4 linked regions of the Homo sapiens genome follow. The protein of the gene in region 1 interacts with the protein of each later gene in a biochemical or structural test. Each region holds a gene or a part of one and is shown in the gene's direction. Other genes may lie near its edges.

The links.
Region 2: the proteins of HDAC4 (region 1) and NACC1 form a complex in vitro, tested with the Homo sapiens proteins (2 studies listed by BioGRID).
Region 3: the proteins of HDAC4 (region 1) and PTPA form a complex in vitro, tested with the Homo sapiens proteins (one study listed by BioGRID).
Region 4: the proteins of HDAC4 (region 1) and YWHAQ are reported together in a solved structure, tested with the Homo sapiens proteins (2 studies listed by BioGRID, with this or other methods).

The regions. Positions count from the first base shown.
Region 1 is NC_000002.12:239,132,017-239,139,041, reverse strand, and holds part of HDAC4 (histone deacetylase 4), read left to right. Parts: intron 1-4,398; coding exon 4,399-4,515; intron 4,516-4,598; coding exon 4,599-4,797; intron 4,798-4,803; exon of another isoform or gene 4,804-7,025. UniProt on the Homo sapiens protein: Responsible for the deacetylation of lysine residues on the N-terminal part of the core histones (H2A, H2B, H3 and H4).
Region 2 is NC_000019.10:13,135,239-13,141,647, forward strand, and holds the end of NACC1 (nucleus accumbens-associated protein 1), read left to right. Parts: coding exon 1-915; intron 916-993; coding exon 994-1,167; intron 1,168-2,032; coding exon 2,033-2,138; intron 2,139-2,239; coding exon 2,240-2,337; intron 2,338-2,908; coding exon 2,909-3,168; 3' UTR 3,169-5,909; downstream 5,910-6,409. UniProt on the Homo sapiens protein: Functions as a transcriptional repressor. Seems to function as a transcriptional corepressor in neuronal cells through recruitment of HDAC3 and HDAC4. Contributes to tumor progression, and tumor cell proliferation and survival.
Region 3 is NC_000009.12:129,142,415-129,149,439, forward strand, and holds the end of PTPA (serine/threonine-protein phosphatase 2A activator), read left to right. Parts: intron 1-30; coding exon 31-138; coding exon of another isoform or gene 139-486; exon of another isoform or gene 487-4,972; coding exon 4,973-5,050; 3' UTR 5,051-6,532; downstream 6,533-7,025. UniProt on the Homo sapiens protein: PPIases accelerate the folding of proteins. It catalyzes the cis-trans isomerization of proline imidic peptide bonds in oligopeptides. Acts as a regulatory subunit for serine/threonine-protein phosphatase 2A (PP2A).
Region 4 is NC_000002.12:9,620,974-9,627,998, reverse strand, and holds part of YWHAQ (14-3-3 protein theta), read left to right. Parts: intron 1-7,025. UniProt on the Homo sapiens protein: Adapter protein implicated in the regulation of a large spectrum of both general and specialized signaling pathways. Binds to a large number of partners, usually by recognition of a phosphoserine or phosphothreonine motif.

The DNA.
Region 1 (7,025 bases):
CCACAGTCTGGGAGGGACATTGGCAAGCTAGAGAGGAGTCAGGGGACGCTTGGAGTCCCTAGGTGGGAAAGATGTCAGAGACGCAGGAGCTGAGTGGCAAGGCAGGGAGGAGTGGCGCCCAGGCTGGCCGAGTCGCACACTGACCATACTCGGAGGCTTTCCAGGGCAGCAGGTCCGAGGACCTCGCTCCGTGTTCCTTGAGCTCCTTTGCGCCCCCTGCCTTTATCCCACACGTGTCCCGAGCGCCTTGTGCCAGGCCCAGGGACAGAACCAGGCAGGCAGCAAGGACCTGCCCCACACTCCACACAATGCCCCACTGACAAGGAGAGGCCACCCCCAGAGCACGGGGAAGAAGAGAGAGGCAGAGAGAGGCAGTCCCGCAGGCTGAGTGGTGCCCTGGGCCTGGGTGGGCCTGACTGCAGGGCAGGGGTGGGAGGGGTACGCTTTAGCAGTGAGTTTTCTGATGAGTTGAGCTGGAAATGCTGTGTCTGCTTCATGGGGCAGAGTTCTACTGAGTGGGAGGTTCTTTCTGAATTCTCTCCAACTTACAGAAGGCTATAATTTATTAAATATAGTTATTGACTTTCCTTCTTAAATATTTAGAAATGAATCCTGCCCTTCCAAAGGATTGGCAAATCTTAGCTGGGATACAGAGGCATGAGTGTTTAGCATTTTCATTTCAAATTTCAAGACCGTTTATGTATAAACATTTTTAGAGACTAGAATTACTGCTCAGAACGAATTTTGCCCTTTGTCTCCAGGCTGCTTAATCCCCAATTTCTCTTACTCTTTCTACTTCATACATCGATTTCTTTTATTACCTGTCTTCTTCAGCCTGCCAACTTCAGTACTTATTTAGATGATTAGAAGTTTTAACAGTCCTCTGTATGGCTGTGGTCATAGCTGAGGTCTACCAGTAATAAGCCTTATAATGCAACCTAGAAATTACTTCCTGCCCTGAGGTTAACACTGGTTGCATCTTGTTGATTGTGGTCCTAGATACATGTTTTTATTTAAAATGAGGCACTTATGTACATGGTAGTTAATATTGGAACAGTGCCTTGTTTGGGTGGGTCTGCATCATTCCAGTTCTGTGTTAATTTTTAGAAATCACGATACGTAAATGAAGCTACTGGAAATTAATAGAACATGTAGAAGGAGTTACAGGAAATACCAAGAGGTGCCATTGTTCATGTTCCACATCAGATGTTCATTAGAGTGGGCACGGGCAGCCTTTGCATGTTGGATCACACCCAGGCGCCCTTTCTGGGTTTCAGTATCTCTAGAGTTGGACGGGTCTGTGAGAACACCTGTGCTTCATGGCCAGGGGCTGGCTCTCCGTTCTCACGTGGTGCAGAGTGTAGTGAGCTTGCCCGTCAGAGGGGGTGTCTCGAGTGGATGAGGATGTGGGGGGAGCAGGGGCCTCCCAGCCTGGCTCTCAGCACTGCCTTTTCTGTTCACCCTGGGGTCCCTAGAAACACTACTGTACCTTGAAGGCCCCCTGGACCCAGGGAAGCCCAGTGTGCCGGGCACCTCCTCCTCTACAGTGCCAGGGAGGCCCAGAGTGCCGGCACCTCCTCCTCTACAGGCCAGGGAAGCCCAGTGTGCCGGCACCTCCTCTACAGGGAGGAGGCAGGGCTCAGAGAGTGAGAGGAAGTCGCCCAGGTGCGTAAGGGGACAGCTCCTCTGTGGCCGCTGCTGCTGTTATTTACACGCGTGCCTGGATGCTCTGACCTCAGGCCCGCGGACTTTCCCTCTGAGCACATGCTGAGATGCGGTCCGGGGGCGCCAGCCTCAGAATGCCTCCCGCAGGGCTCGGCCCCGAGGCAGCAGATGCCAGAACGCCCTGCGATTTCTCAGGTGGACCAGTCGGCATCTCCAAGGAACAAATTCTCAGAAGCCTCCTTTAGTTCCAGAAATGGGCTTAAAAAAAACCTTGCTTACAAAGGAAATGAAAACTTTGCAAACATTAGAACGTCTCCTTATTTTGTTCCCAAATGATAACACAAGCATTTCCTCTACAGCATAACTTACTGATAATTCTTTAACTTTTGACAAAAAAAAAATTGCCTAGGAAAAATGTTTTCCTCAGTAGCCCTTTAATCATTCCTTACACAATGTAATATGTGAGCAAATCTAAAGGGAGTTGCAGGGTTTCCTCTGGGGCGAGGTGCGCCGTGAGTTTGCTCCTAAGTGAGAAGGCCGGGCTTTCTGTTCTGTAGGAACAGCCTGAGTGTAAGTGTTTGTCAGGAGAAGCGTTTCTTCCTATCCCCAATGGCCAGTCATATGTCTTTGGGGAAATGTCTCTTCAGATCCTTGGCCCACTTTTATACTGGCTGCTTCAGGTTTTGCTGGTGAGTTGCTGGAGTTCCCGCATGTTCTGGATACTGCTCCCTTGTCGGATGAATGGCTTGCACATGTTTCCCCTTCCCACAGGTCGTCTCTTCACTCTGGTGATTCTCTTCCTTTGCTGTGCAGAAGCTTTTTAGTTGAGCAGAGTCCCAGTTGCCTGTTTTCGTTTTTGTTGCCTGTGCTTTTGAGGTCTTAGCCATGGATCTTTCACAATAGCCAAGAGGTCGAATCAACCTCAGTGTCCTTCAGTGGATGAATAGACAGAGAAAATGTGGTGCTGTACACAGTGGAATACCATGCAGCCATCAAAAAGGATAGAACCCTGACATTTGCAGCAACATAGATGGAACTAGAGGCCCTCATGTTAAGTGAACTAAGCCAGGCACAGAAAGACAAACATGGCATTTTCTCATTCATCTGGGGGAGCTAAAAACGTTGCTGTCATGGAGGTAGAGAGTATAATGAAATCTGTTATCTATTCATTATTAACGTTAGCTTCTGGCAAGGGGATTTCTATCTGCCAAACCCCACTAACTAGCATGATTACAACAACATTTTATTCCTTCTCTTTGTTTGCCCATTCATTCAGCAGACATTCCTTGAGTAGCTACTGTGTAGGGGATATAGTGGTGATAAACTATTGTCCTTTTTAGCAAAACACGTTCATTCTACAAGCAAAAAGATGTTAAATATCACAGTAGTTCAAGTCCTTGGAGACTGTTGCTGCTGACTCTTCCTGTGTGGCCTTCTAATCTTTACTCCTGGCTTGTGTTTGCTTTATCCAAGCCCATTCTTTAAAAGGTACATGATCTATAACCTGTTTTTCTAACTTAATGTATCATAAACAAGTGTCCAAGTAATCAGCTAGATCGTTCCCAACCCCCAGAGCATCCCGGTGTGCAATGCCCCTCCGTTCTGTTAACACCAAGGTGTCGGGGAAGCCGCATAGCTCTGCCATGCCTGCTGGGTGCTCGGCCCTGCAGCGGAGGCTTCATGGGCATCAGGCCATCTCCTTATTTCTTAACGTTACATCCCAAGAGTGGAGCTCCAGCATCAAAGGTTAGACAGATTTTGAAGGCCTTTGACATAGATTGCCAAATTGTCCTGCAGAAAGGGTGCCACTAACTGATTTGTGATTCACCCAACAGTGTTCGCCGTTCCTCTAGGCCAAGATGGTATTACCATGTTTCAAAAGTGTTTGCCAATTTGTTGGGTTTCAGAATACCTTTTTTGATGACCATGATGTGTTTTCCTGAGCGCCTTCCCCTTCCTGAGCTCTGCCGTCACTGGTCCTCACCGCGTGCTTTTCTCACTGTTAGTTGTTTGATTTGCAAGCTCTCTGTGCTGACCCTCGTCTGCCTCATACATGGCCAGTATTGTCATCATTGCCCACCTTTCGTAGAGGCAGTTGTTTTATGATTTTCTCTTTATTTTTAATTTTTGTGGGTACATAATGTATATATTTGTGGGGTACATGAGATGTTTTGATACAGGCATGCAATTTGTAATAATCACGTCATGCGAAGTGTGGGATGTCCATCCTCTCCGGTGCTTATCCTTTGTGTAACAAACAATCCAATCATACCCTTATAGTTATTTTTAAATGTACAGTTAAATGTTATTTCCTTTTTGTTTTCTGCCTTTGATGTTATGTCTGGAAAGACATTGCCAACTACAAAAAAGCATTGTAAACTATATTATCCTAGAAACTGCAAAACGGCATTGTAAACTATATTAGCCTAGATTTCCTTCTAACTGTTCTGTGGTAAATAATCAAACTGAATAGAAATCAACGAGATGATGCTGGACAAGGTGACAGAAGAAGAACTCGTATCGGGAGGAGGAAACTGGAGTGGTGAATTGTGCTTTCATGTTGTGGCACGTGTTGAAATCTCATGCTCTCATTGCTGTCTCATTTGTTACATGTACGTTTACGCTCATATATCAGAATTCAGTGCAGGTGTTTTCATCGTTGTTTTTCTTGGTGTATATTGCTGATGTTTGGCCGTGACAGACTGTGATGGTCATCGTGTGTTCTGTCCCCAGACGAGTTTGGCGCACAGACTTGTGGCACGAGAAGGCTCGGCCGCTCCACTTCCCCTCTACACATCGCCATCCTTGCCCAACATCACGCTGGGCCTGCCTGCCACCGGCCCCTCTGCGGTAAGTCAGCCCCCGTGGGTCCGTGTGGTGTGGGGTGGTGGTGATGGGTCCTTCCACCCGAGCATCCTGGCTGTGCTTTCCAGGGCACGGCGGGCCAGCAGGACGCCGAGAGACTCACCCTTCCCGCCCTCCAGCAGAGGCTCTCCCTTTTCCCCGGCACCCACCTCACTCCCTACCTGAGCACCTCGCCCTTGGAGCGGGACGGAGGGGCAGCGCACAGCCCTCTTCTGCAGCACATGGTCTTACTGGAGCAGCCGCCGGCACAAGCACCCCTCGTCACAGGTGAGCACAAATGGGCCTGGGTGCAGCCAGGCTCTGAGGCTGCCCACGCTCTGGATGGTGCCCCGCCTTCGCCTGCCTTTGGAGGAGACAGGAATGCACGCCTGTCCCACCCCCACAGTTCCCAAACACACATCCCCATCACGTGATGTAGCCACCGTGACTGCAGTGAAAATCCATGCCTCACTCCCAGAGTCAGGTAGATGGAGTGGAAACAGAAGTCACTTCCCCTTTCTCACCTTTTGGGAGAGGCCACCGGCTCTTGCGATTTGGGTTTCTGTCTGGACCAAGCTGAGCCAGCGCTGGAAGCCCAGAACCGACTCTTGTGGTCAGTTTGTGTTAGCGAACTTTTACAAATGTGCACTGTCTGGGGGAGTGGTTACATTTAGAAAAATACAATTTAGAGGAAAATGGGAACGTCCTTATGAAATTACATAGCAACAGCAATGTGAAAGTGTCACTTCAGAAATGAGGGCACACCGGCCGGACACGGTGACTGACACCTGTAATCCCAGCAGTTTGGGAGGCCGAGGCAGGCGGATCACGTGAGGTCAGGAGTTCAAGACCAGCCTGACTAACATGGTGAAACCCCGTCTCTACTAAAAATACAAAAATTAGCTGGGCGTGGTGGCGCACACCTGTAATCCCAGCTACTTGGGAGGCTGAGGCAGGAGAATTGCTTGAAATTGGAAGGCAGAGGTTATAGTGACCCGAGATGGTGGCACTGCACTCCAGCCTGGGCAACAGAGCGAGACTCCGTCTCAAAAATAAATAAATGAGGGAGCAGCTACCTACCCCCTTGCCGTGCGGGTCATCGTTGTACATCTTCATAGCTTTGTGTTTGGCTTCCTGGAAACCTGTTGTTGCCAATTGAAAGCTGAAATACCCTCAGAGCTGCACCTGTGAAACTCTGGCAGTGAACTTGGTGAAAACTCAGGGGCTTGGCGTGTTGTAGGAGGCTGCGCTGCAGGATGCGTGGGGCTAGGGGCTGGCTTGGGTGGGCTTGGGCCTCTGGCTTGACTAGTCTGGTGGATTTTGGTGTTTTCTTGTTTTGTGCTGCCCATGTGTCTCTGTTTAGACAGAGAGGATTCCTTCTTATTCCTTCTTTGCCCAGAAGCCAAATGGCGCAATCTTTGTTTTGTGCCTGAGCCCCTTTCTGTTTGTTTCTCCAGAAGCTTGAATTCGTGTCCCTGCCTGTCCAGAGCAGAGGAGCCCGTGGTGTAACGAGGGAGGGGGCAGCCCTCACAGTGCCTCTCTGAGCTGCGGCCACAGTGGCAGGCACGCGGATCTCTCTGGAGGAATGTATCTGAGGTTGCGTCTGAGTCTCTTGGATGCTCTAGATCAGCTGGCACGAGTGTGGGTAGTGAAGGACACCTGAGTTTCTCGCCTGTCTTTAAAAACGTAAAATGTGCCTGATCTTCAGGATTCCTGGGATTCACTTCGTCAGAGATGTTTGTCACTTATCTTCTTTCCTTCTCTAAATCAGTTTATTCTGCACGATTAAATAGCATGCGTAATCTTGTGTATCAGGTTTTTGGAAAACAGCCTTTTTGATAGAACCTGGATATCGAGTGTGCATGGGTCTCACCTCTCTGAGAAACGCACTGAACTCGGCGTTGCTTCTTCCCTGTGTGCGCTCATCCCTCTTTTCCTCCCAGGTGCAGCTTGCTCGTTGGCATGGGGACCTGCCCACCGTGCCCTGCCCAGGCTCTGTGCCACCAGGGGGCCCATGCATGGTTGCCCAGCTTGCTCTGGCCTTGCTTTACGCCTGTGCCCAGCAAGCCCCTCCAGTCCTATGCCGCCACCTCCAAAACCCTGCAAGCCCCTTCTCTCCTGCACAGCCTCCCCAGGTTGCCAGCAGCTCATCCTGCAAACCCCCTGGCAGGGAGCCTCGGAGCCAGTGTCACGTGTGCAGCGTAGTGCAGCCACACAGCCGCCTCTGTCCCAGCTTTCTCCTGCTCCATGACCCTGGGAAGCCGCTTATGCTCTGTGTGCCTTGTTTTCCCATCTAGGAAGTGGGGATACTAAGCGGTCCGCCCCCGTGAGCCTGATGAGGGTTAAGTGGGCTGTGCACTCATGTGCCCCTGCAGGTGTTGGCATCATTGTTGTAGTCATTGCCTTGTTCTTAACCTGCCACCTCCCATGCTCTCTCACTCCCCCAGCCAGCCCCTGTCCGTCCTCAGTGTCTCAGGGGCCCTCCCCCAGCCCCGCCATGAGCAGGGCCCTCATTT
Region 2 (6,409 bases), on another chromosome or scaffold:
ACTTCGGCAACAGCATCCTGGAGTGCCTCAATGAACAGCGGCTGCAGGGCCTGTACTGTGACGTGTCAGTGGTGGTCAAGGGCCATGCCTTCAAGGCCCACCGGGCCGTGCTTGCTGCCAGCAGCTCCTACTTCCGGGACCTGTTCAACAACAGCCGCAGCGCCGTGGTGGAGCTGCCGGCGGCTGTGCAGCCCCAGTCTTTCCAGCAGATCCTCAGCTTCTGCTACACGGGCCGGCTGAGCATGAACGTGGGCGACCAGTTCCTGCTCATGTACACGGCTGGCTTCCTGCAGATCCAGGAGATCATGGAGAAGGGCACCGAGTTCTTCCTCAAGGTGAGCTCCCCGAGCTGCGACTCCCAGGGCCTGCATGCGGAGGAGGCCCCATCGTCGGAGCCCCAGAGCCCCGTGGCGCAGACATCGGGCTGGCCAGCCTGTAGCACCCCGCTGCCCCTCGTGTCGCGGGTGAAGACGGAGCAGCAGGAGTCGGACTCCGTGCAGTGCATGCCCGTGGCCAAGCGGCTGTGGGACAGTGGCCAGAAGGAGGCTGGGGGCGGCGGCAATGGCAGCCGCAAGATGGCCAAGTTCTCCACGCCGGACCTGGCTGCCAACCGGCCTCACCAGCCCCCGCCACCCCAACAGGCTCCGGTGGTGGCAGCAGCCCAGCCCGCCGTGGCTGCGGGAGCAGGGCAGCCAGCCGGTGGGGTGGCAGCAGCAGGGGGTGTGGTGAGTGGGCCCAGCACGTCGGAGCGGACCAGCCCAGGCACCTCAAGCGCCTACACCAGCGACAGCCCTGGCTCCTACCACAATGAGGAGGACGAGGAGGAGGATGGTGGCGAGGAGGGCATGGATGAGCAGTACCGGCAGATCTGCAACATGTACACCATGTACAGCATGATGAACGTCGGCCAGACAGGTGAGGTGCCGTCCTGTCCCCCATCCCACCAGCCACCCCTGCTCCTCCTGCCACTCGCGTGCCACTCTCTCCCTGCAGCCGAGAAGGTGGAGGCCCTCCCGGAGCAGGTAGCCCCCGAGTCCCGAAATCGCATCCGGGTTCGGCAAGACCTGGCGTCTCTCCCGGCTGAACTTATCAACCAGATTGGGAACCGCTGCCACCCCAAGCTCTACGACGAGGGCGACCCCTCTGAGAAGCTGGAGCTGGTGACAGGTGGGCCGGTCTCGCCCCAGATCTCTCCCCTCCGCAGCTTTGGAGCCGGCTGGCCTGGGCTGGGCTGGGCAGCTGGTTAGGAGCCCCCAGCACCTCAGTTTCCCTATCTGTGCTGTAGTGTTGGTAACAGCCACCCTAAGGGTGGGGGCGTTGGTGAGATGGAGGAGCTGATACAGCAAGGCCTGGCCTCTAGGTTTCTGGCTTAAGGGGTCGGGGCGAGCATTGGCTATTATTGTTTGGCCGCATGGGTAGATTAGCTACTTCCCGGGCTCCTGTGAAGGCCAGCTACTACCTAGGTTAGGAATTTGGACAGTCACAGGGGCGAATGCCTGTAGTCCTAGCTACTCAGGAGGCTGAGGTGGGAGGATCCCTTGAGCCCAGGAGGTCAAGGCTGCAGTGAGCTGTGGTGGCCACTGCACTCCAGCCTGGGTGACAGAGTGAGACTTCATCTCTTAAAAAAAGAAGAAGAAGACTGTGTTTGGTCCTTGGGTCAGAGTGCCTAGGTGTGAGCCTCCACTCCCTGTTGGTCCTGCTGAGCTTGGGCTCATCTCTAGCTGGTGACAGCCAGCGTGCCCACCTCACACAGGCTTGCGGCACGACTGGCCACACAGCAGGCACCCCGAGGATGGTGAAGCAACCCTTTCTGTCCTTTCCTGAGCACTGATGAGGTTGGGGGAGCCCCAAGGAGCCTCCCCTGACTGCCCTTGGTGGGTAGAGATGTAGGGGAGAAGGTCCCTGGGTGAGTTTTCTTGGGACCCAGAGCCCAGCAGGGAGGGCCTGGGGTGTTCTGAGATGAGGCCTGGTATCATGGGGGCTGTGGCGGTTTGGGGGCACCCCAGGCCATCCTCCGGCTTCCTCTCACCAGGCACCAACGTGTACATCACAAGGGCGCAGCTGATGAACTGCCACGTCAGCGCAGGCACGCGGCACAAGGTCCTACTGCGGCGGCTCCTGGCCTCCTTCTTTGACCGGTAAGGCCCTTGCCAGAGCCCCAGGGAGGGGGGTGGGGTTTCCCCATGTCCCCCCCACCACCAACTTGAGCGCTGACTCCCTCCATGTCCCCTGCCCCCAGGAACACGCTGGCCAACAGCTGCGGCACCGGCATCCGCTCTTCTACCAACGATCCCCGTCGGAAGCCCCTGGACAGCCGCGTGCTCCACGCTGTCAAGTGTGAGTGTTGGCCCAGCTGGACGAGGCGTGGGCCCGGGGCACGCAGGTTGACGTTTTTTCCCAGCCTTGGCTCTCAGAGAGGGCTAGAGTTCAGTGTTGAGAAGCATTCTGGGGCTCATTCTAGCCTTGCTGGGAAACCGGCTGTGATTGCTTAGAGATTTCTTCGTGTTTGGGGGATGCACGTGCCGAAGGGAAGCCAGGGAGCCTGTGTCAGGCAGGAGGGTCTCGAACTCAGGGCAGTCTGGGAGGGATGAGGCAGCCAGACAGTGCTAGCCACTCGTCATGGGGGGCATCTAGATTTTCAAGTGACCACTCCCCGTTACTAAATTCTGGCAAATGATCCGAATTTTTCAAGAACACGGGGCCATCCCATCAAAACCAACACATCCCCACACATGGCTGAACTCAGTCCGGTGTAGGGTTGGGTGCACGTAGTGTGGTGTCCTGGCCGCGTGGCCTCACTCGTTTCCCCTTTGAGAGGGAGTCGCAGATGCTGTAGGGGAGCTGGTGAGTAGGCCTTGTGGGAGTCACCTGGCCCCCGTGCCAAGGCCGCACCCACCCTGCCCCACAGACTACTGCCAGAACTTCGCCCCCAACTTCAAGGAGAGCGAGATGAATGCCATCGCGGCCGACATGTGCACCAACGCCCGCCGCGTCGTGCGCAAGAGCTGGATGCCCAAGGTCAAGGTGCTCAAGGCTGAGGATGACGCCTACACCACCTTCATCAGTGAAACGGGCAAGATCGAGCCGGACATGATGGGTGTGGAGCATGGCTTCGAGACCGCCAGCCACGAGGGCGAGGCGGGTCCCTCGGCTGAAGCCCTGCAGTAACCCGCCCAGCCTCCCGCGGGGCCACACACTTCCCCTCCCAACACACACACACACCTGCCATCTTGGTCATGAGCTACTGTCTGTCCCTCCCCAGGACCCGCGGTGGGTGCTGCATGTTCCCGGCCCTCTGCCCCTCCTGTCCTACCCCCTTTCCCCACCGAGAGCTGGGCCGGGAGAGGACCGCAGGGCAGGTGGCGTGAGGTCCGTGTTGCCTTCTTTAACACACACTCGTGCAGTGGGGGAGTTCTGGCTCCCCAACCTAACCCCTAGCCGTCATCTCCACACTCACCAGGCCCACCAGGGGAGGGGGCTGGCCTGGGGGTCTTGGGAAGGCCCCTCCCCAGGCCCTAGGCCACCTCGCGGAAGCCTTCAGCCTCCGCCCCTCACTGCAGCCCCTTGGGACTTGAGGGGGGCCCCAGGGGTTCTCAGGACCCCTCCCACCACCTCCCAGTGCTTCCACGTCTCCAAAAGCGCCTTCCTGTCACCCTCGTCTATCCCTGCGCCTGGGGGCTGGGGTAGGCGAGGCCGTGGGGACTACCCATTTTATAGCTGGGGAAACAGGCTCCGAGAAATTGCACAACCGACCTCAGGTGGCCGGCAGTGGCGTGCCTGGTGCCCTTTCTCCTCTTCCGCCTCTGTTGCTCCCTTTGGTCCTCTGGGGCCTCAGAGAGGCAGGTCCTAAAGGAGGGGGGGTCTCCTGGGGGCAGACCGAGGGTCTCGGAGGATAGAATGAGAGGTTTCCAGGGCTGGCAGAGTGTGTGCGTGTGTGTGTGCAGAAGTTTTGCTTTCAAACAAATGAAGATACAAGAGGCAGTAGGACCTGGGTTGGAACCCAGGGGAGCAGACTGGGGGGCTGTTGCCCCTCCCTCCATCTCCCCACACCCACCCCACCCCACAGCAGGGCTCCTGGCCCCCACCCCCCTGTACATAATTTTTAAAACCTTTTTTTAGCGAATGAAATATTGAAGTATAAGATTCCTTTTATTTTTCAAACCAATGGGGCTGTGTCTATTGTCCCCCTCGGTCCCCAGGGGTGGGGGGCCTTGGAAGGCAGGGCGGTGTTGGGGGGCTGGGGGGCAGGCTGAATGTGTGTGTGTGGGTGTGTATGTGTGGAGTGTGTGTGTGTGTTTCCATGGTAGGACTCCAGTCCCAGCTGCTGCCTAGGCTCCTGTGGGTCCTGTGGGTCCCCCTCCCCTGTTCACCTTCCCCAACAGGGCTATAGTTTAAGGGTGTCCCAGGCCTTGGCTGGTTGGCTGGGCCCAGCTCCTGGGGGCTGGGCAGGGCAGGGCAGGGCCGGGTCCACTTCCATTGTTAGCAGTTGTTTGCAGAATTTTCTCTTTTACCATTCCTCTCTTTTTGTTCTCGCCCAGAGTGGGTGGTTTTTTGTTGTTGTTTTAGATTTTCATGTGAAGGCAGTTTTTTTTCTTTTTTAACTCCCCATCCCCCTATGCAGGGTGTCATTTCACCATCCACATCCACATCCTTGTTTGTGTTTCTGGCCCTCGTCCTCCCTGCCTCTCATCTGCCTCCCCAACCCCCACCTACCCACTGCTCCCAGGGGTCTCTCCAGGGGCAGGGGGATTTTAGGAGATGGGGTGGGGGCCAGCCCCTACTGGACCCTTGTAATCTGATTTGGAGACCATCCCCCCGATGGGACCAGCAGCCCCGCCGGCCCACTGGGGGTCCCTCTTAACATCTGCTTGTTGCGGGGGTCAGTCATGAGTGCCAGGGTCTGGCTGGGGTCTTGGCACTGTCTTCCTGGCCGGGGCCTGAAACCTTAGCCCCCAGCCGGCCTGAGTGGGGGATATTGACACCCCCAGCTAAAGCACAAGCACCTTAGTCACCCCTCCTCTCCCCCCGCCTCCTGGCCTGCCACCCCACCCCAGCGTTTACCCCAAAGCACAATGCCCTGGTCACTTGGCAAGCGGCTGGGCCTGACGGAGGCCGAGGGGCAGACCGGGGCTCCAGCCAGACCCCTGAAAGGAAGGTGCTCCCCCACTTCCAGGCCTTAGTTGGGGTGGGGGGGCCAGCTCCTGGGCCTGGGGTCTTCTCACCCCCACCCCCTTGTCCTGGGTAGGCCCCTGCCTGCCCCTCTCTGCCTTTTCCTCGGGTGTCCCTCCTCGAGCCCCTGTGGCATTGGCTTGGGTGGCAGAGCCCACTTGTTTCAGGGACCCCAGGAGGTGCCCCCTGGCTCCCAGGACTGTGTGTGGGTCCGGGGGGTGGGGGGGTGGGGAGAAGGGTCGGGCAGGGGGTGCAGGGGAGGAAACTCCTCACCAGGAGAGCCAAAGACAGGGTTGTGCCTTACCCCAGGAGCCACCCCTGTACCCCCCTTGCCCTGCCATTCACCCTCCACCCCTACCCCTGGGCGGCCTGCTGCTTTTTCCTTCTCTTCCTCCCCTGCCCTGAGCTGCATGGTTCCCCCACCCTGGGCAGCCAGGAAGGAATCTGAATGGAGAATCACCAACCACCAGAGAAAAAAGACTGTGGGGCCCTCCCCTGCCAACTCCCCTTCCCTGGCCGCCCACTCAACCCACACCTCTTTCACGCAGGACAGGCTGCCCACCCTGTCCACGTGAAGTGCCAACGCCCTCCCCACCCTGGGCCGAGCCCCCACCCCTCCCTGGGCCCCCAAGTGAGATTGCACATTTAACTACTGTAAGGAGAGGAGCGGCGTTGGCAAATGTGAACCATGAGAATATCAGTGATACTGATGAGAATAAACTAAACGCCTTTGTAACAGCCTTGCCGCATGCTCGTTACTTGGGGGCCCAGGGAGGAACACACACCTGCATTGTGCCCAGCAGACCCAGGTTGCTGACTGCAAACTGACAGCCTCCGATTCTAACACGCATGCAAGTTACCCCAACAGATACAGATAACGCAACATATGAGCTGGTCCTACACACACACACACACACACAATTTTTTTTTCTTTTTTTTTTTTTGAGATGGAATTTCACTCTGTCGCCCAGGCTAGAGTGGCGCGATCTCGGCTCACTGCAACCTCTGCTTCCTGGGTTCAAGCCATTCTGCCTTAGCCCCCCCAAATAGTGGGGATTGCAGGCACCCACCACCATGCCCGGCTAATTTTTGTATTTTTAGTAGAGACAGGGTTTCACCATGTTGGTCAGGCTGGGCTCGAACTCCTGACCTCAGGTGATCCACCCGCCTTGGCCTCCCCAAGTGCTGGGATTACAGGTGTGAGCCACCGCGCCCAGCATTTTCTTTTCTTTTTTTTTTT
Region 3 (7,025 bases), on another chromosome or scaffold:
TCTCTTCAGCTTGTGGCTTCTCTTTTTCAGATGAAGACTGGCCCATTTGCAGAGCACTCCAACCAGCTGTGGAACATCAGCGCCGTCCCTTCCTGGTCCAAAGTGAACCAGGGTCTCATCCGCATGTATAAGGCCGAGGTGAGTGGGGGCTGGCCAGTGTGCCCGTCCCTGCTGCCGCACTTGGTCCTGGGCTGGGGACAAAGCAAAAGATGTGGAACCTGGGGCTCCTGCTTCCTCCTACCCCACTGTTTTGCTCTGAATCTTAGGCCAGCCCCTCTGACACTTGGGGCCTCGGAATCTCCCATCTGGGGCATGGGCAGTCAGAGAAGCACCAGCCACCCCAGCCCCGAAAAGCTGCAGTCCAGCTCTGTCCTGATGAGCTTGGAGGCTGAGGCAAGGACCTGCTGCATGGGGAGTGGGGGCGATGGGGGCCTCCCTTCTCCTTTATCAAGTGGCCAAAGGCTCCTCAAAGCTCGGGCAGTCTGAGTCTGGCTCTCCCATGGCATACCTGGGAAGGGTCTTACCCTTTGGAGGCATCTCCAAAGTGCTGCCTTCAAATGTTAGTGTGTATGATCACTGAGTGGTGGGAGGTCTGAGGGTAGGCCGAGAATTGGCATTTTTATGGACCGCTTCAGGGATTTTGATGCAAATGGTTTTCCCTGCTCTCAAATCAGATGCTGAGGAGAGGAGAGCTGAGGCTTCCTGGAGCTCCCCCTGCTGGCAGGCAGCCGAGGGTGTCTCCTGCCCTCTTGGCACTGTTCTCCCAGCCAAGGAGGTGGCCTTTTCTCTCTTCCAAGTGGGGAGGAGACATTTTATTTCTACTCTGTCCCTTCTGCTAGCTCCTCCCACTTCCTGGGAAGACTAATTCTAGAACTGCTTGACCTTGGCCAGGGAAGGGCTGGATGTGAAGTTCCACACCTGGAGTGATGGGTCCTTAAAGTCCCTTCTTTCTGTTCTCAGGCTGGCCCTTGTGACTAGTTCATGGCCTCAGACACTGTACTGTGGGCACCATCTCTTGACTCCTGGCCGGCCTTCTCTTCTGGGAAGGGGCTGCTCCAGGTCTTCATTGGACCCAGAGCTTCCTGGATCCCATCAGCAGAGGCGGGACAACGGGGAAGGGTGCCAGAGGCCAGCGGGGTGGGGGAGCACAGATGCTTCCAGTTGGCTTGGCTCCCTGCACTTGGTCCTGAAGGGGTTAATGAGGCTTGAACTGAACAGACCGGGCCCTCACTCCCTTCCGCCCCCTCCCCCTTTGGTCCCCTTCCTCTGGACCTCACATCCTGTGTTTAGGTTCCAGCCCACATACCTCTCTAATCTGAGAGGCCTGAGAGCCCGTTGGCTGGAGCTGCCTAGGTTCCTTCCGGCTGCAGCTGGCCACCCCCGGCTCTCCACTCCGACTCTGCCCTGGGTCACTGCCCTCTGGTGTCCTGATGTTCCTGACCCCACCCCCGCCTGTCCCACAGTGGGGGCTGCTGGGGAACTCTCACTCTGCTGTGCCCCGCCTCCAGGGTGTCTGAGCATGTGAGAGGTGCACATCGCCCACCAGCCACCTCCCAACCCCAACCCTTGTGTGCCAAAGAGAGGACTCTGGCTGCCTTCTCTGCTTGGTACCTGAAGTACTGTCTTCTCTACAAGCCTCTTAATTCAAGTGACTCTAAACTTCTCTCGACTCAGGCTCTAAGGCCCAAAGGATAGGGCAAGAGACCCTGTCCCCTTCTCTCACCTGCCCTTCCAGAGACAAAAGAACTCCAGGCTGCCAGAGGATGAGGGAGGAGCATATTCGGATTGAAAATGGTGATGGTGTGGCAGGAACACAGGGACTGTCCACTCTGCACAGGCTGTCGGGGTCTCCGTGGGGGCTGAGCACAGGGTGGCAAACACAAAGAGGACACTGAAAATGACCAACTCAGGATGGGGGAGCTCTCTAGTAATCTGAAAAAGGGAGATTCTAGCCCTAGTTGAGGCCGGCGCTGTGTGGGGAAGGGGACAGGCTCCTGTATAGGGTGACGCTGGAACTCCCTGACTTTAAGATCACCAAGTCAGGCCGGGCGTGGTGGCTCACGCCTGTAATCCCAGCACTTTGGGAGGCCGAGGTGGGCGGATCACGAGGTCAGGAGATCGAGACCATCCTGGCTAACACAGTGAAACCCCGTCTCTACTAAAAATATAAAAAAATTAGCCGGGCGTGGTGGCGGGTGCCTGTAGTCCCAGCTACTCGGGAGGCAGAGGCAGGAGAATGGCGTGAGTCCGGGCGGTGGAGCTTGCAGTGAGCTGAGATGGTGCCACTGCACTCCAGCCTGGGCGACAGAGCGAGACTCTCTCAAAAAAAAAAAAAAAAAAAGATCACCAAGTCTTTGCCTGTAATCCCAGCAATTTGGGAGGCTGAGGTGGGTGGATCACTTGAGGCCAGGAGTTCGAGACCAACCTGGGCAACATGAGGAAACCCCGTCTCTACTAAAAATATAAAAATTAGCTGGGTGTGGTGGCTCATGCCTGTGGTCCCAGCTACTTGGGAGGCTGAGACGGGAGAATCGCTTGAACCTGGTAGGCGGAGGTTGCAGTGAATTGAGATCACACCACTGCACTCCAGCCTGGGCAACAGTGTGAGACTCCGTCTCAAAGAAAAAAATCACTGGTTGGGTGCGGTGGCTCATGCCTATAATCCCAGCACTTTGGGAGGCCAAGGCAGGTAGATCACCTGAGGTCAGGAGTTCATGACCAGCCTGGCCAACACGGTGAAACACTGTGTCTACTAAAAATACAAAAATTAGCCTGGCATCGTGGTGCGCACCTGTAATTCCAGCTACTCAGGAGGCTGAGGCAGGACAGTCACTTGAATTTGGGAGGTGGAGGTTGCAGTGAGCCGAGATCATGCCACTGCACTCCAGCCTGGGCAACAGCGAGACTCCATCTCAGGAAAAAAAAAAAAAAAGATCACCAAGTCTTTGCAGTGTTCAACACTCATTGACAACTTACTAGCAACTAGCCCTTAGTCCTTGGTCCCGAAGGGCCCATGGGCTGGCATGTTGCCTACACAGAGGTCCAAGGAGAGGGCTTGTTTTCTCAGGCCAGTTCTTAGCCCCTAAGGAGGCCCTCCAAGGCCTGCCAGTCTTGCAGTCCAGGGGTGGGTAGGAAGGCTGGGTCTCCAGTCAGAACTGGTTGATTGAGGGGAGTCAGCCTCCTGGGCTGCCACAGAAGTCTGACCAGCCTGGCAGTAGGTGGCCTCAGGATTTGGGTCTAACTCTGCTCTGTCCCAGCCTTTCTGACCGAAGAACCAAGTGCTCTCAGGGGCCTTGTGTGGTTGCGGGGCGGCGGGGGGGAGGGTCTGTCTTTCCTCTGGGCCATGGCTGTGTGGGTGCTGCCTTCAGAAGGACCTTGTCAGGACCCAGGGAGTCCCTTCCCCAGCTTGAATCACCTCTGGCTGGAAGGTCAGGGGGCAGTCTGAAGCCGCTGCTCCGCCCAGGTACATGGGAGGGCCTTGCTGGGAGAAAGGCTGGGCTGGAGGCTCCTCCTGCCCTGGAGCCTTAGGCTTCCTTGGCCCAGCTCCTGTGGCTCTGAGGGGGCTGGCTCTGGGGTCCTGTGGGCAGAATGGGAAGAACCCCTGCCTCCACCCCTTCTCGCCTTGCAACTTCTTCTATGGGAGCTAGAGGGAGGTTGACCTTTGACCCCTTCTGGAATTCCAGGGCCCTTGGGGGGTGGGGGGGCTCTTATGACCACTTCTGGGATGACATAAGCACCATGGCAGCTGCCTTGGCCTCTGGCCTGGATCTGCGGCTGCTCCCCCTCCCGCCCAGGGACCACCTCCCGCTCCCTGCTCCCGCATTCTGTGTCTCAGGCCCAGGATCCTGGCTGTGGCCAGGGCTCTGCTCCCCACCCCACCATGAGCTTGGTTTCCATCCTTCTTTCCCTCCCCTCCTGGCGCCTCTTTGGCCCACTCGTCACCCTGGTGCTTCTCCCTCTTAGGTTCCACAGCTGATTTTTGAGGAGAGGGAACCTGGGCCAGTCATAGCACCCGTTTGTCTCTAAGTTAGTTGGAGGTTAAGATCACAGCCACAGAGTGAGGCTCTTACTCTCTCTGAGGCCATAAGTCTTGTTCCACCCCAGCCAGGAGGTGCCTAACATACTCTGTTTTCTGTGGCCAAAGGTGTGGGAGGAGGCCCTGGTCAGTCTTGGCAGATCCAACCCTCGCATGCCCAGAACGGCTCCTGTGAGAGCTAGTGTCCAGGTGTGGCAGGCATGGGGGTGCTGTTGCGGGAGCTGCAGCTGGAAGCTGGGGTTGGCTGCCTGTGGGCCAGGCCAGCTTCTGTGATAGGCCCTGTCACTTGCTCTCCAGCTCTGCTCCTCTGCTAGGAGCCCGGGCTGGGCTGGGCTCAGGGAGTCGGGCCTCCCCCGTGCTCAGCCATTCCCCTGTTCAGCGCTCTTTTTCCCCTGCCCCCCACACAGGCTGCTGGGAATTGCCCAGGGGTGGGGGGAACTCAGTGTCAGCTGGTTCTTATTGTCTCGCTCTGAAGTGCCAAGATGCCTTTTTCAGTCCAGAGAACTGAAAGCTGGAGAAAACAGGCTTTGGGACCCGGCCTCAGCCTCTTAGGCTTACGTTCAAATGTCCCCACGTCTCTTCTCTAGAACTGGGACCTGGGCTGGGGGTCCCCAGTGATCAGGAGGGTTCTTTCCACCTCAGGTTCCCAACTTCCCTCTCTGGGCCAAGTGATGGCACCTGGCTGCCTCTCTTCTCGGTTTCTACCTTGTAGGTTTGGGCTGCCTTTTCTCTTTCTCTCTCTCGTGGGTCTCGTTGTGGAGTGGGTGTCTTTGGATAGAAGGAGTGAGGAACTGGGGGAGGAAGGCCTGGGGGATCCCCTGGCGGGGCTACTTCCTGGGCCCGGGATGGACACCTGGGAGCTGCTGCGGTTGTTGGGGTCCTGGCAGGGGTGTGGTGTGGCCCTCACCACTCTGCTCACCTGCTCCTTCCTCACAGTGCCTGGAGAAGTTCCCTGTGATCCAGCACTTCAAGTTCGGGAGCCTGCTGCCCATCCATCCTGTCACGTCGGGCTAGGAGGGGCCAAGCCGAAGAGCCACCCAGGCCACAGTTCCTGTGCCTGCCTTCCCCACCCCAGCAGTGGCCCCTCCCCATCCCCTCCCTCTGTTCGTCCCGTTTGATGAGAGGCTGTTTACTGGGGTGGGGTGGCGAGATGGGCTTGAGGGGGCTCAGAGCATAAGGCTTCAGGGCCCAAGTTGGGAGAAGTGACCAAAGTGTAGCCAGTTTTCTGAGTTCCCGTGTGCTAGACTGGCCAGAAGAGAGGGTCTGGGGCCTGGTCACTCGGCCACTCTCTCCTGTTTCTGGCCTCTTCTCCCTTCACTCCCGTCCAGTCTGGTTTTGAGAGCAGGGGCTGTTCTGCAGCACCGCAGGGAAGGGAGGAGAGATACCTGCTGCTTCCATTGCTTTTCCCTTCCTGGAGTCGATGCCTTTCTAAGGGTTGGAGCTGCTCCTTGCAGGGGCGGGTCAGTTTCCCAGGCCATGCCGGGGTGGCCATCTATGGTAGGGCTGGAAGCTGAGGCTGGCCGCCAGCTGTGGGCTGGGGTGGGGTGGGTGGGGTCGGGTGGTGGAGAGGCCTTAGCTGTCCTGGCTGGTGCCCCTCCCAGGCTCCTTTTCACCCTGCCCCCTGGGCCTGAGGCCCCCTGTGTCCAAGCCTCCCCCTGGCTCTTCAGTTCTCTAGCCCTTGGCTCTGCTGGGTTTCCTGACTGTAGCCACATCTCTCCCGCTCCCTAAGGGTAACCTAGCCAATGGAAGCTGCCCTTTGGGTAGGTGCTGGGCTCCTGGGAGGGCCCAGATGATGGGGTGAGGCATGTCTTTCCAGAACTTTCCCTGGCAGGGAGGGGATGGCAGAAACTCAGGGAGGGGCTTGGGGCCCATTGTATCTGGAGAGCCTGGATTCCTCTTGGCAGTCTTAGGCCCGGCCACTTCTGCTACCTTTGCGCTGCTGTGAGCCTCACCCTGGGCCCCTGGGCCCTGCTTCTCTGCTCCCCTGGGTGATGGGTGGGCCCAGAAGGTGGCAGTCCCACACCTTGTCCTCCCACCTCCCTGAACTGTCCATTGCTTTTATAGGGTGAGGTAAGAGACAGCCTCCCAAGCCCAGGCTTTGGCACTCAGAATGGGCCCAGTGGGGGCTGGGCAGGCCCATTGAGGGCCACCGCCGAGGTTTCTCCTAGGGCTGTTCCTGGGCCTGGCTCTTACAGGCTCGTCCCCCAGGCCTGCCCTTCTCCACTGCCCCCTCCTGTGTCTGGGTCCACACACCCTTCAGGAAGGGGGAGCACTGAGAAGCACAGCACAGGGGCTCAGCCTGGGATCCGGTGATGGTCTGGGCAGAGGCTGGGTCAGGAGTCCCAAAGGTCAGTGACAGTTTCTCAGAAGAGGCCCAGCGTCCACCTCTCTCCCAGGGCCAGACAGCCCTTCCTGGCTCCCCCATCCCCCTATGGGCTCCCAGCCCCTTGCACCCTCATTGCTGTTCAGATTAAAGCCTCTGTTTTGCACCTGTCACTTGTGTGAGGTATGTCTTTTCATGTCACATGTTTAACCCATTTCTGCATGACTGACCTCCATCAGGTCCCCTTCTCTCAGGCCACAGTGTCTGAGACGAGCTGTTTCAATTTGGGTTGAGCCTTTCCTGGGTTTAAATCCTAGCTGTCTGCAGTCCCAGCTGCAAGGTTGTAAGTTACTGAAGCCCCTGAGCCCCAGCTTCCTCAATTCACAAAATGGGGACAGTCACAGGGTGACTGCCAGCAGTGGACAGCAGATGTGAAGTCCTCAGCTCAGGGCCTGGCACATAGCATATCCCGGGTGGTCACTGCAGCTGTGCTTGGTGAAGGGGGCCCCTCTGGACTCCCAACTTAGCCCCAAGCTGGCCAGGGAGCCTTTGGATGGGCTTTGACAGTGGAACATGCACCTGTGGTTTGTGAGGGGGTGGCCCTCTATTCTCCCTCCTCTGCCCCTCCTGTCCCTGCTGGGCTGGAGTTGAGGGTCTCTGGGGCTG
Region 4 (7,025 bases), about 230 Mb from region 1:
ACAATATTCCCATCAGATGGTTAATGAACACAATGCTATGTAGTCTGAAGGAAATAGAAACCTTTGAAAAGGCTTCACAAAGATACCGTTTTTTTGGGGTGAACGTTGAGGGAAGAGGCTGGCGGAGGTGTCAGTATTAAAGGAATATCCGGGGTAGGGCTTGTTCGGGGAACAGTGTGTCGGTGTGGCTGGAGCAGAGTTCATGTGCAGAGTTGCTGCAGGAGACAAGCCTGGAAAGGAAGGCAGCCATCATCATTTATAGAAGATTGGAGTAAGGGGGGTTTCTTCATTTGGTTCATGGGAAACTGGTTTTTTTAAAGTTTTATTTATTTATTGTAGAGATGGGATCTTGTTACACCCAGGCTGGTCTTGAACTTCTGGCCTCAAGCAGTCCTCATGACTTGGCCTCCCAGAGTCCTGGGATTACAGATGTCAGCACCACTGTACATGTAGCAGCATCTAGAATTCGTGGTTTGAGGGCTGACTAACCAGTCTGTGATCTGAACTGACAGATAAGGAAGTTATAAGACAAGTGATAATTGATGAGTTAGTAATTTAATAAGGAGTCTAGGAAAGTAGAGTAACACCTAAAGTTTTTGAACATGCGTGCTAACATAGGGTTTTCTTTTTTTCCTTTGGTGAACAGGAAGAAAGATTTGGTGTGGAGGAGGTGAGACTAACTTGGTAATTATAGAAGACTAGTTAAAGTAACATGAAGGATAGCTAAATTTTTGGTAGAAAAGAGCAGATATTCTCAGCCTCCTCCCTTTCATAGAGTAGGTTGGGGCAGAATTACTTAAACCATGTATTCAAAATAACTGTGTGAACAACTCTCAACCCTTTTGATAATCACGGTATTGAAAGAGGTTACTGAACCGTGGAAGCACAAAAAAATGTTAAAATCCAAGAGTAAAGAACTATAAGTGAACCAAACTCTCTAAGATGAGGGGAGTTAAGATTTCATCCAGTTAGAGCTGTCTCTCAGTGTCATTGTAAAACCGAAGACTTTGGGCTTAACTTTCTAAGTCTCTTCGAGTTCTCATGGTTTGGGGCTGTAGAGTAATGCAGGTCCTAGCCATTCTGCTCTGCTCTGACATCCTTCCACCTCTTAAATGAGTAGTTTTTAAAGTCCAGATTGAAGAATACATGACAGGTTGAAAACTGGTGACTTTAGGGAAATGGCTTCAGAAAGAAGTGAGGCAGAAGTCATTGGTGATCTTACTGAGTGTTGGCAAGAGCAAAATTTAGACACAAAAAAACTGGGCTTTGGCTGGATGTGGTGGCTCATGCCTGTAATCCCAGCACATTGGGAGGCCAAGGCTGGTGGATCACCTGAGGTCAGGAGTTGGAGACTAGCCTGGCCAACATGGTGAAACCCCGTCTCTACTAAAAATACAAAAAAATTAGCCAGGCGTGGTGGCACATGCCTGTAGTTCCAGCTACTCGGGAGGCCGAGGCAGGAGAATCACCTGAATCTGGGAGGCGAAGGTTGCAGTGAGCCGAGATGTGCCACTGCACTCCAGCCTGGGCCACAGAGCGAGACTCTGAAAACAAAAACAAAACCCTGGGCTTAAATATTACAGGTAAGATGTTTAGGAGTCATTAAGAAGAACTTGGATGTGAGGGAAGGGCAAATGGAAAAAGTTAGAGGGGTTCACAAAGCTCTTCTGGGACTTGGGAACAAAATCTGTCATTTACAAAGTCAGTGACCTTGGAATAAGAACCAGGCAGTTTGAGTGTATACAAGATAATTTCTATCTTAGACATCATATTATCCTCTCCTGTACATCAGTTCTAGTAGAATTTCAGTAAATTACTTCAGCATAATGCATAAACAATTTCAGAAACTAAAGTGCATATCGCAATTTTTAAAAATGAGAGTTAAAATAGTATGTAGGGAATCTCTGGAAGTTGTCTGTCTTAGTGTAAAAGCTTTGTAACCTTAATTGAGTAGTATGCTTGAATTTAGTTGTGTTTAAATTTAATCTCAATAAAAAATGTCTTACGCTGCTCATTATTTTTTAGTAAGACTGATATGTTTTTCTTCATAGTTAATGAATCTGAATGTGATTTTATTGACACAGTGGAAAAAGTATGGGCTCTGAATCAATTTTTGAATCGTTGCTCCATTACCTTTTATTTTCGTGGACTCTGGCAAATTTCTTAATCCCTCAGACTCTCTCTCTTCTGTAAATTGATGATGGTGCCTGCCTTTATGGGCTTGTAGTTAGAATAATGGCTCATAATTAACATTTACCAGGTATTCACTGCACACTAAACACTATTTTAAGCACTTTATACTCACTTTGCTCCCCTAAGGTAGGTTGATAGTATCTCTGTTTCAGAGTTGAGGAAAATGAGGCATAAAGAAGTTAGTAATGTGGTCAAGATTACAAAGCTAGTAAGTGTTAAGAGCAAGGATTTTAACCCAAGTGGTGTAACTGCTTATGACATGAAACACAGTAGGCCCTAAGTACATGGCAGCTCACTTAAGACCATGGTGTGAATTTCTGTTTTGAGGAATTTGTGCATTTTAATAAATATAAGACATTAATGCTTCTAACGAGGAAGGTAGACCTGTGATGGGCAAAACTCCTAGTCTGTAATATTGAAGACTTTCTTATACACACAATAGTGTAATAAGATTTAAAAACTCATTGACGTTGTGGGTTTTGCCCTTAGATTGTAGGCTGCTTAAAGGCAAGAGTTTTGGGGGGTTTGGGTTTTTTTTTTTTTTGTGATGGAGTCTTGCTCTGCCACCCAGGCTGGGGTACAGTGGCGCCATCTCAGCTCACTGCAACCTCTGTCTCCCGGGTTTAAGCAATTCTCCTGCCTCAGCCTCCCGAGTAGCTGGGATTACAGGCATGCACCACCATGCCTGGCTAATTTTTTGTATTTTTGGTAGAGATGTGCCCCAGCCAAGGTTTTTGTTGTTGTTTTTTAAAGAATGAAATGGGCTGGGCATGGTGGCTCACGCCTGTAATCCTGGCACTTTGGGAGGCCGAGGCAGGTGGATCACCTGAGGTCAGGAGTTCGAGACCAGCCTAGGCAACATGATAAAACCCCATCTCTACTAAAAATACAAAAAATTAGCCTGGCGTAGTGGCGGGCACCTGTAATCCCAGTTACTTGGGAGGCTGAGGCAAATTGCTACAATCGGGGAGACAGAGGTTGCAGTGAGGCGAGATTGTGCCATTGCACTCCAGCCTAGGCGACAGAGCGAAACTCTTGTCTCAAAAAAAAAAAAGAGTGAAATAGAATATTGTAAGTTTAAGGTTAGGTTCGTGTCACTCAACCAGGTGATTTTACCCACTCCCCACTGCCCCCAGCGGAATTTTGGCAACATCTGGAGACCTTTTGGGTTAAGACTTGAGGAAGGAAGGTGCTGCTCACGTCTAGTGGGTAGAGAGGCCTGAATGCTACTAAACATCATGCGGTGCACAGGACACTCCCCAACGAAGACCCCAGCCCCCCCCATGCCAATAATGCCAAGGTTGAGATGCCTTGGATTAGTCCATAAATAAAATGAGCTGTATTAAGTTGTATTGGATTGTGTCATGCTGTCCTTTGGCTTCTTCCTAACGTGTTGATATCTTACCTGAACCTCTTGTCTAGCTAGACTTGTCATTTTTCCCCTTGTCATTATTGTGTGTATGCTGTTCAAACTCTACAGTTCACCTTACTGAAACTTATTCAGTGGGTCCTATTTTTTGTTTGGTTTGATTTGATTTGTTTTTATTTTTGAGACAGAGTCTGGCTCTGTGGCCTAGGCTGGAGTGCAGTTGCGCCATCTGGGCTCACTGCAACCTCCACCTCCCGGGCTCGAGCCATCCTCCCACCTCAGCATCCGGAGTAGCTGGGACTACAGGCACTTGCCACTATGCCTGGCTAATTTTTGTATTTTTTGTAGAGATGAAGTTTTGCCATGTTGCCCAGGCTGGTCTTGAACTCCTGAGCTCAAGCAATCCACCCAGAGTGCTGAGATTACAGGCGTGAACCACTGTGTCTGGCCGGGTCCTATATTTTCAAAGTGCCACTTCTTCATAGTTGTCTCCAAAGCCCTGAGCTCTTTTAAAGACTTCGCACAGACTGCAATTATATTGAAATCTATTAGATGCAGTGAAAATTGATGAACGGCAAATCTCCTCCCCTCCTTCATAGTAGCTTGGCATATGTGGTTCAGACTTTTTAAATTTAATTTTATTTATTTATTTATTTATTTTGTTGAGACAGAGTTTTGCTCTTGTTGCCCAGGCTAGAGTGCAGTGGCGCAATCTTGGTTCACCTCAACCTCTGCCTCCGGGTTCAAGCAATTCTCCTGTGTCAGCCTCACAAGTAGTTGGGATTACAGGCATGCACCACCACACCCGGCTAATTTTGTATTTTTAGTAGAGACGAGGTTTCTCCGTGTTGGTCAGGTTGGTCTCAAACTCCCGACCTCAGGTGATCCTCCCGCCTCGGCTTCCCAAAGTGCTGGGATTATAGGCGTGAGCCACTGCACCCGGCCGTGGTTCAGACTTTTAATGCAGTGGTGAACACTGTCAACAATTTTTCTCCAAACAACCCCTGGGAAGAAGATCGTTGTTGCATGCTTTATGCTAGGATTTACTTAAGTTCTCGAAGTGGAATTTCCAAATCAAAAGATGTGCGGTTTTTTCCAGATAGCCTTCTGAAAAGGTATGTGTATACACTGTCATCAGCAGTGGTTGAGAAGGTCATTCATTTCCCCTAACCCTTTCCAGCACAAGCAAGTTTTTAAGGCTAACAAAAATCTGGTGACCAGAAGGTTTAACGTCTTATCTCCTTGTTCAGTATTGGATGTATGAGGACCACCTCCCTTCTCACAAAGGACTGCTTAAGAAAACTAGTATTTTTAAGTCTCATGTAGTTTCATTTAGAACATGATACCATAGCATGGGATTAGTTCAGTCAAGGTGTTGCTTTGGCAGTTGGGAAATCTGGTTGGCTATGGTAATGTTCTCTATTTTTATCATTAAGACCAGTTTTTGTATTTAACACTAATCCTTTCCAAATGGCAACAGAAAACGTATCTGAATTCATACCACTGACTTTCTGGATATCAGGGAGGTGGTAGAGAGACATCATTTAAAAGATGTGAAGAGAAGCAAAGTTTATCCATTGCTACTTTAATTAAACTCTTAATCCATAGATAAGTCAGTGATAAATATGATAAATTACTAGATTTGAAACTATTGTTTGCATATTGAGTATTTAAAGACAAAATGATGATAATACCTAGGACTTCAGAGTAATTGGGGGAATACAGATGAAACAGGAGTGTCTATGAATTAATATAGTTGCAGCTGGCTTTAATTGGAATTCATTGTACTATTCTTTGTTCTCCTGTGTACCTTTAAAATTCCCTATTATAAGTTTTTCCTCCCCTAGAAATTCCACTCTTAGGTGTTTACGCAAGAGGGAATGATGCATGGGGCCAAGGCGCATAGGTACAAAAATGTTAATAACAGCTTTATTCTAAGAGCAGAAAACTAGAAATAATCCACTAGTAGGAAAATTGATAAACACTGATGTATTCATAAATGGAATACTATTCAGCATTAAAATGAATGGACCACTGATACTACAATATGATTGAATTTCAAAAACATGCTAGGTGAAAGAAACTTTGCATGAAAAAGTACATAGTGTATGTGATTCCATTTATATGAAATTTTAGAACAAACACAACCTGTTTATGGTAGGAAAAAAAATCAGGAATAATGGCCTCTGTGGGAGAATAGGCAGAGATTGGGAAGGGGCAGGCTTCTGGGATAATTGTATTTTTTTTTTTTTTTAATACTTTAAGTTCTGGGATACAAGTGCAGGACGTGCAGGTTTCTTTCATAGGTATACATGTGCCATGGTGGTTTGCTGCACCCATCAGCCCGTCATCTACATTAGGTATTTCTCCAATGCTATTCCTCCCCTAGCCCCCGACGCCCTGACAGTCCCCGCTGTGTGATGTTCCCCTCCTTGTGTCCATGTGTTCTCATTGTTCAACTCCCACTTGTAAGTGAAAACATGCGGTGCTTGGTTTTCTGTTCCTGTGTTAGTTTGCTGAGAATGATGGTTTCCAGCTTCATCTATGTCCTTGCAAAGGACATGAACTCATCCTTTTTATGGTTGCATAGTATTCCATGGTGTATATATGCCACATTTTCTTGATCCAGTTTATCGTTGATGGGCATTTGGGTTGGTTCCAAGTCTTTGCTATTGTGAATAGTGCTGCAATAAACGTATGTGTGCATGTGTCTTTATAGTAGAATGGATAATTGTATTCTTTAGTTGATATGGGTTTGGGTTTTATACATTTGTCAAAACTCAGCAAATGTACACCCAAGATTTGTGCATTTTGTATGTAAATTTTGCTTTGAAAAAAAACTAGTGATATGCCTGTACTTATGTCTTCAGCTTGTAACTGCTAGAAATGTATGGGTATCTGAAAAAGCAAGTATGGCAAAAGGTTAATGGTAAGATCCAGGTGGTGGATATGTGGGGGTGTTCACTGTAATTGTTGGTTGCCATGTATTGGGGGTTATGATATTTCACATCACTGGTTGAGTGTCTTTAATACATATAGCAAGAAGATAGTGTGTAGCCTGTGTCTTGTTATCCTCAAGATACGAGAATGTATAGAACGGTATTGATCCCCACTTAGGAGACATCACTGGCACCATCACTTTTTTGTTTGGGTGATGAGTGCTAAGTAGATTGATGGAGTTACCAGATGCTGTGTAAGACGTCTTAATTGGCCATACTCTGGGACAGTGGTTCACAAATTTGATCTCAGGACCCCTTTTTAGAAAATAAAATAACTTTAACAAAAAATTGAATGAGAATAGCGGCATTGCATTTCATTCAACCTATTGTAGTATTCCACCTCCTGTAGCTTCTGGAAAACTCCACTTGTGAGAAAATGACAGTGGAAAAAAAGCAAATATCTTAGACTTATGAAAGTGGTTTTACTTTGTCTCCTCTCCACCCCACAAAGGATATAGGGGAGA